Linked DNA regions of Homo sapiens: region 2 is linked to region 1. The links come from fine-mapping of genetic effects on plasma protein levels. A gene starts in region 1. The other region holds a variant in brackets. All regions are shown on one strand. Distances are between the middles of the regions.

What was found. A credible set is the group of variants that fine-mapping cannot tell apart. PIP is the chance, under the fine-mapping model, that this variant and not a neighbour inherited with it causes the effect. Sun 2018 read protein levels with aptamers (SomaScan).
Region 2: its variant is the best candidate, but not a certain one, in a credible set for the plasma level of the BLVRA protein (Sun 2018, PIP 0.59). The variant lies in the coding sequence of BLVRA. If it changes the protein, the assay may bind it differently, which can mimic a change of level.

What each region holds. Positions count from the first base shown.
Region 1 is chr7:43,757,356-43,760,264 of GRCh38, forward strand. BLVRA (biliverdin reductase A) reads left to right here and starts at 1,325. Exons shown (of 8, transcript NM_000712.4): 1 at 1,325-1,379. It also overlaps the pseudogene LOC107986727. RefSeq lists a cis regulatory region at 1-8 and silencers at 1,030-1,419, 1,430-1,749.
Region 2 is chr7:43,789,605-43,792,513 of GRCh38, forward strand. BLVRA (biliverdin reductase A) reads left to right here. Exons shown (of 8, transcript NM_000712.4): 4 at 1,645-1,764. Among named protein-coding and RNA genes, the nearest start is that of BLVRA, 32 kb to the left of the region's middle. The variant A/G (reference allele first, on the strand shown) is at 1,677.

The DNA of each region.
Region 1 (2,909 bases):
GATCAGGCAGGGCTTTGGGTTTTACTCTGAGTTTGGGAAACCACTGGGAAGGTTTTGGGCAGAGGAGGAATTTGATCTGGCTTTCTTTTTTTAAGGTCACTCTGGCTGCTTTATGGGGACAGGCTGCAGGGATATCAGGGAAGAGACCACTGTCATGACCCAGGTAGCAGATGATGGAGGCAGAGGTAAGAAGTGGTCAGGCTCTGGGTATGCTAGGGAGATCCAACCAACAGAATTTTTGGGCCCTGGAGGTGGGATGTGAGAGAAAGGTTTCTGAAACAGCAAGGTTTCTGGCCTTGACAACTGGAAGATGGAGTTGCCATCGAGATGGTGATGCTATGGGGAAGAGATCAGGGGCACAGATTTGGATGTGTTGAGATTGAAATGTATTTTAGAGATCCAAGAGGAGGTATTAAGGAGGCAGCTGGATAGAGGAGTATGGAGTTCAGGAGGCAGGTCCCGCCTGGAGATAAAAATTCAAAGCCAAGCCTTCTCTCTTTGCACTCAACAAAACCTCACTTAAACAGGCTTGTCAGGTCATGGAATACGGTACTAGAACTCTTTGTTGGGGAAAATGCCAGTCAACCTTACCCGTCAGAACGCTGCCTTTAAGATCAGAGATCTCTTTCCTTCAGCCTAATCCACCCCTCTCCCTGTTTTCTCCCCTAGCCCCACTAGGCTAGAAGCTCCCTGGCTTCTCCCACATCAGGATCCCCAACAAACCCATTCCCAGGTGGATAAGAGCCCAGGCAGTTCCCTAGACCACGTTCACTACTTCCTAGCTACCCAAGAGCAGGACATCGCAGACACCGGCCTCCTGGAATATTCCCTCCGCTCCTCACATTTACAGGAAGGACTCAGGTAAGCCTCGGCGCCAGTTCAGTCGGCCCGGGGCCACTAAATACCAATGGGATCCAGTGGGTTCTACGTGGTGAGTGGGGGGCGGATAAGAGAGATGCGACACCCCCCGGGCCTGCCCCCCCCACGCCGGGGCCAGGCACACCGTGAGGGGGCCAGGCACACCGTGAGGGGGCCCAGCCACTTCCATACGCCCTCCGGTCGGCCGGCACCCACCACCCACCCCTCGCCACCAAGCTGGGTGCAGAGAACAGGGCAGGCGCACGGACGGTTCTTACGGCCCCAGGCGCCAGACCCAGGGCACAGAGGCCAGGATCTCACGCGCGACCGCACGAGGCCGGGACCCTCCCTCCCCTTCCGTCCACTCCCTTCCCCACCGCCTCCGGTCCCCTCCCGGTCTCCGCCACCCCGCTTCGGGGCCCCCGCCCCCCAGCCGGGCAGCCAATCGGAGCTGGGATCCCGCCCCGGTCCGCAAAGCCGGTGGCGCCCGGAGGCTGCACGGAGAGCGGTGCCCGCGTCAGGTGAGGCGCGCGCGGGGAACGGGGGTCGCGCGCAGGGGAGCGGGGGTCGCGCGCGGCTTCCATAGAGCGCTAGGGCCTGAGCTCGAAGCCCCAGGCCCGCAGGAGGCCCGGGCCCGCGGCCGCCAGAGCCGGGACGCAGCCTGGGCGCCGCCTGCCCCGCCCCGCCCCGCCCGGGCCCGGAGTGAGGACGCGGTCGGAGGCCCAGCAGCGCGGGTCCCGGCAAGGGGCTTTCTCAACTACACAAAAGACAGTCTAAAAAATTAAGTCTCCATTTCGGTTAAGACTGCCCGTAGTTTCGGTTTTTATGTAGACCCAAGAGGGCAGGCTCGGCGTCCGCGTGCCGCGTAGTCCGGCGGCTCCAGGAGCGCGAGCGGCTGGGCCCGGGCGTAGCCACCGCAGGGCCGCTAGCTCGGCCGGGACCCGCCTGGGATGCCCTGGGGTCTGCTCCGCTGGGGCGAATCCTGAGGCGCCACGCGAGGCACTTGGCCTCTCCTAGCCCCGCTTTCGTTTTTGGAAACTGGAAACTATCACTTATTTCGTAGACGGTGTGAGGGTTACATGACAGTGTTCTGTAAAGTGCACTCTACATATGAAGTGCTCAGAAATATGGCTAATAATGAGGGTATTTATAAACTACTTAAATTATAAAAAGAATGAGACATCAGACTTACAGTTTTGGATACTAATTTTTTTCACTTAACGTTCATTATGTGATAGGAGTTTTCCATCCTATTATACCGCTGTGCGATCTGATCTTGGGCACGTTAACCAACCTCTTGTTGCCTCGATTTTCTCACCTGTAAAAGTGGGGGTAATCATAATGCTTACTTAGTAGGATAGCCCTGAAGAATAAGTGACTTAGCGAACATAAATAGCTTACAATAGGGTTTTCAGCATGGGAAGGATTCAGTAAATGTTAGCTGTCATCATCACCACCTACAAAGGAAGCAATACTGTGCTGAAAGTTTTTCCATCATTAATGTAATTTCTATAGTACGATTCCCAAGAAGATATTAAAATTATGGAAATAAAGGTATTGGTATATTCCTAATTATTTCCTAAAAGATTGTATTGATAAATATGCTCATCCTTCCCTTAACGGGATGCATTCCAGAAAAACAAGTCAAATGTTAGACAAAGTATCAGAAGGGAAATTCTGTAGCCAGAGAGCTAAAAATTACAATAGGGTCTCTAATTATACTTCAACTTTTTTAGGAATAATTCTCAGTGTGTTTTCCCACATTTCATATGTAATTTTTTTTTTTTTTTTTTTTTGAGACAGAGCCTCGCCCTGTCACCAGGCTGGAGTACAGTGGCGCGATCTCGGCTCACTGCAACTTCCACCTGCTGGGTTCAAGCAATTCTTCTGACCTCAGGTGATCCACCCGCCTCGGCCTCCCAAAGTGCTGGGATTATAACAGGCGTGGCATGAGTCACCGCGCCCGGCCGATCTTTACTTTTTTATTCTTTGTACCCCCTGCCTATCCAGTTAGCATGTGATTAAAGTCAAAGATTTGCCACTTTGGGCCA
Region 2 (2,909 bases), 32 kb after region 1:
CTCTGCCAGTTGGCTTCCAGGGTCAGCTCAGTGGGAACACCTACACTACCCAGGTTGTATGGGAGGATGGCCAGGTCACACCCCTGCATGACAGCCCTGCCAGTACTCACACTGTTTCCCTCTTCACATACCCTTCCCTTCCTGACCTACCTGCTAAGTTCTACCTCCTCCCCAGGAAGCTTTTCTGGTGTATTCCTTTCCCACCCTGAGTCTCCATCTCCTACTTCCAAGCACCACATTTCTCCTGGTAGTCTTGTGGTAGTGGTATGTACGTGTGTGTGTGTGTGTGTGTGTGTGTGTCTTCCTCTAGCTGACTGAGCTCATTGAAAGGCGATGATTTTAATTTGTTCTCCATGATTTCTCCTACAGCGCCTAGTACATAATAGGCAAACAATAAGTATTGCTGAAATTGAGCAATTTAGTTTGGGTGGCCCCATTAAAGAAACCTAGCATAATACTCTTTGGGAGCTAAATTTTCCTGAATGCTTTCTGCCTGCTGCAGCTCAGCTGGAGCTCTGAGCGGGCTGAGGGCCTTCTGCTTGCTAGCTGTCCCACATTCCCCCATGACTGCCACCCTTAGAGGGCTACTCTCCTGCCCCAGCCGCTGCACTGGGAGGTGTACGGACTGCTGGGGCTTTGGCTCTTCGAAGACTGCAGCTCCCCCATGCTCTAGAAGAGTCAGAAGGCCTTGGGTTCCCCTCCTGCTTCTGCTCCTGGTTAGTCAAGGCTATCACTGCCTATTATGTGCTAGGCATTATAGGAGAAATCATGGAGAACGAATTCCTCACCTTCCAATGAGCTCAGTCGGCCAGAGGGAGGAAGACACACACACACACACAAACACACACACAGACACACACACACACAAACATGTGTGCGTACATACTACTGGGCTTCGTTAGCTTAGCTATAAAGTAGCTCGAAGTCGCATGCCAGTTTGCACCCTAAATGTGTTAACGTATTGGATTTGGATTAGGTTTGGTAGTCACAATGTTTGGCCAAGTGCTTGGAACTGGAAGTGACCATAGAGATCACTTCTCATGAGATAAAAGTAGATTGTTCCTTTTATTTTTATGTTATTTTATTTTTGAGGAGTCTTGCTCTGTCACCCAGGCTGGAGTGCTGTGGTGCAATCTCGGCTCACTGCAACCTCCATCTCCCGGATTCAAGTGATTCTCCTGCCTCAGCCTCCCAGGTAGCTGGGATTACAGGCGCCCACCACCACATTTGGCTAACTTTTGTATTTTTTGTAGATACAGGTTTTCACCATGTTGGCCAGGCTGGTCTTGAACTCCTGACCTCAAGTGATCCACCCACCTCGGCCTCCCAAAGTGCTGGGATTATAGGCTTGAGCCACCGCGCCCAGCTGTTTCTTTTGTTTTGGAGATGAAGTAATTCAAGACTCTCCCAGGTCATACACGCTGTGAATGGTACTGTTGGCACTCAATGCCAGATCCCCTGACTTGAACTCTGAGGCTATTTTTCTCACTCCACAATGGAAAATAGCCTGGAAGTGGGAGAGAAGAAACTCATTTCTTCATTTCTGGCAGCAGATCACCAGGACCTGTCGGGAGGAGGGGAGAAGGATGGTGCTCCTTTCTTCTGTCTACCATTGAGTTCCATTTCTCTGTTACTCTGAAATAGAAGGGAGCTCGGGAGCATTGATGGAGTCCAGC[A/G]GATTTCTTTGGAGGATGCTCTTTCCAGCCAAGAGGTGGAGGTCGCCTATATCTGCAGTGAGAGCTCCAGCCATGAGGACTACATCAGGTGGGTTTTCCACACAGGCAGTCCTTGCCTTACACAGCAGTGCAGTACTGCAAAAATGAGCAAGCAAGCTAAAACACCCTGCAAAGGAGTCAGAAGAGCCAGTGAGAAAATTACAATTGCTCTGTGACCAATCACAGAAGTGTCAAAACATTAAGAAATTCTTATTGCTGGTTATAAATATATAAGGAAGTGAAAAATAGTAAAATTAATATTTAGTATGTGTAATTTGAAACATTAGAAACATTCAGAATTAAAGTGTTTTATTTCTCTGTAAAAACCCATCGAGAGTAGTTTTCAACAGTAGTGGCCTCCTTCTTCTCACCAGACAGTTTAGGATGTGGAGCCGGCATCCTTGGCAAATTATCATACTCCCTTCTCAGTTTGGATCAGCTTCCAACGTTTTCTCCTTTGTGCTTTCAATGTCATAAAATAACGGTTGAGTTCCTTTAACCCTCAGGACCTGGCAGCTAACAGGGAAGTGCCAGCTGCCTTCCTCAGTCTAGCTTCCTTCTAGGTTCTTACAGCTGCTCCCACCATGCTGTTTCCCACGGGTAAGATGCTTCCTCTTTATCAGTCTAGCTCTAGAGTAGACAAAAACACCTCTCCTTGGCTTTCCTTAACCTTTTCTGGCACCAGAGTGTATTTCCTTAAGAAAAGTGATTCTGACATAAGTCCCATGCTTATAAATATTTGTACTCTGGTATCCACAGAATGAAATCTGAACTGCTGAGCACAGAATTGTAGGTCCTTCACAGTCAGGCCCCCAGCTACTTTTCCAACGTTATTATCCTCCACGGCCTGTAGTCCACTCCCCTGCCACACTGAAGTTTGCCGATTGAACAAAGCCCCACAAATGCCCAAGCCCCTGCATACGCTGCTCACAGTGAAATATACTCACATGTTGCACCTGGAAAATGTCTGCTCATACTTTGAGACCCAGTTCATAGGTCCTTAGTGAAATCTTTTCAGACTGCCTCAGGCAAAGCTAGCCGCTGTGGGTTTTGTAGCCTTTATAGCTACCATGTGGTGATAGGAAATTTATTTGTTAATGTGTCTTTATTTCTCCTCCACAGTAATTGGTAAATAGTACTTAGTTGAATAAATGAATGGTTGAATGTTCAAATTAACACATAACCAGAAAGTTG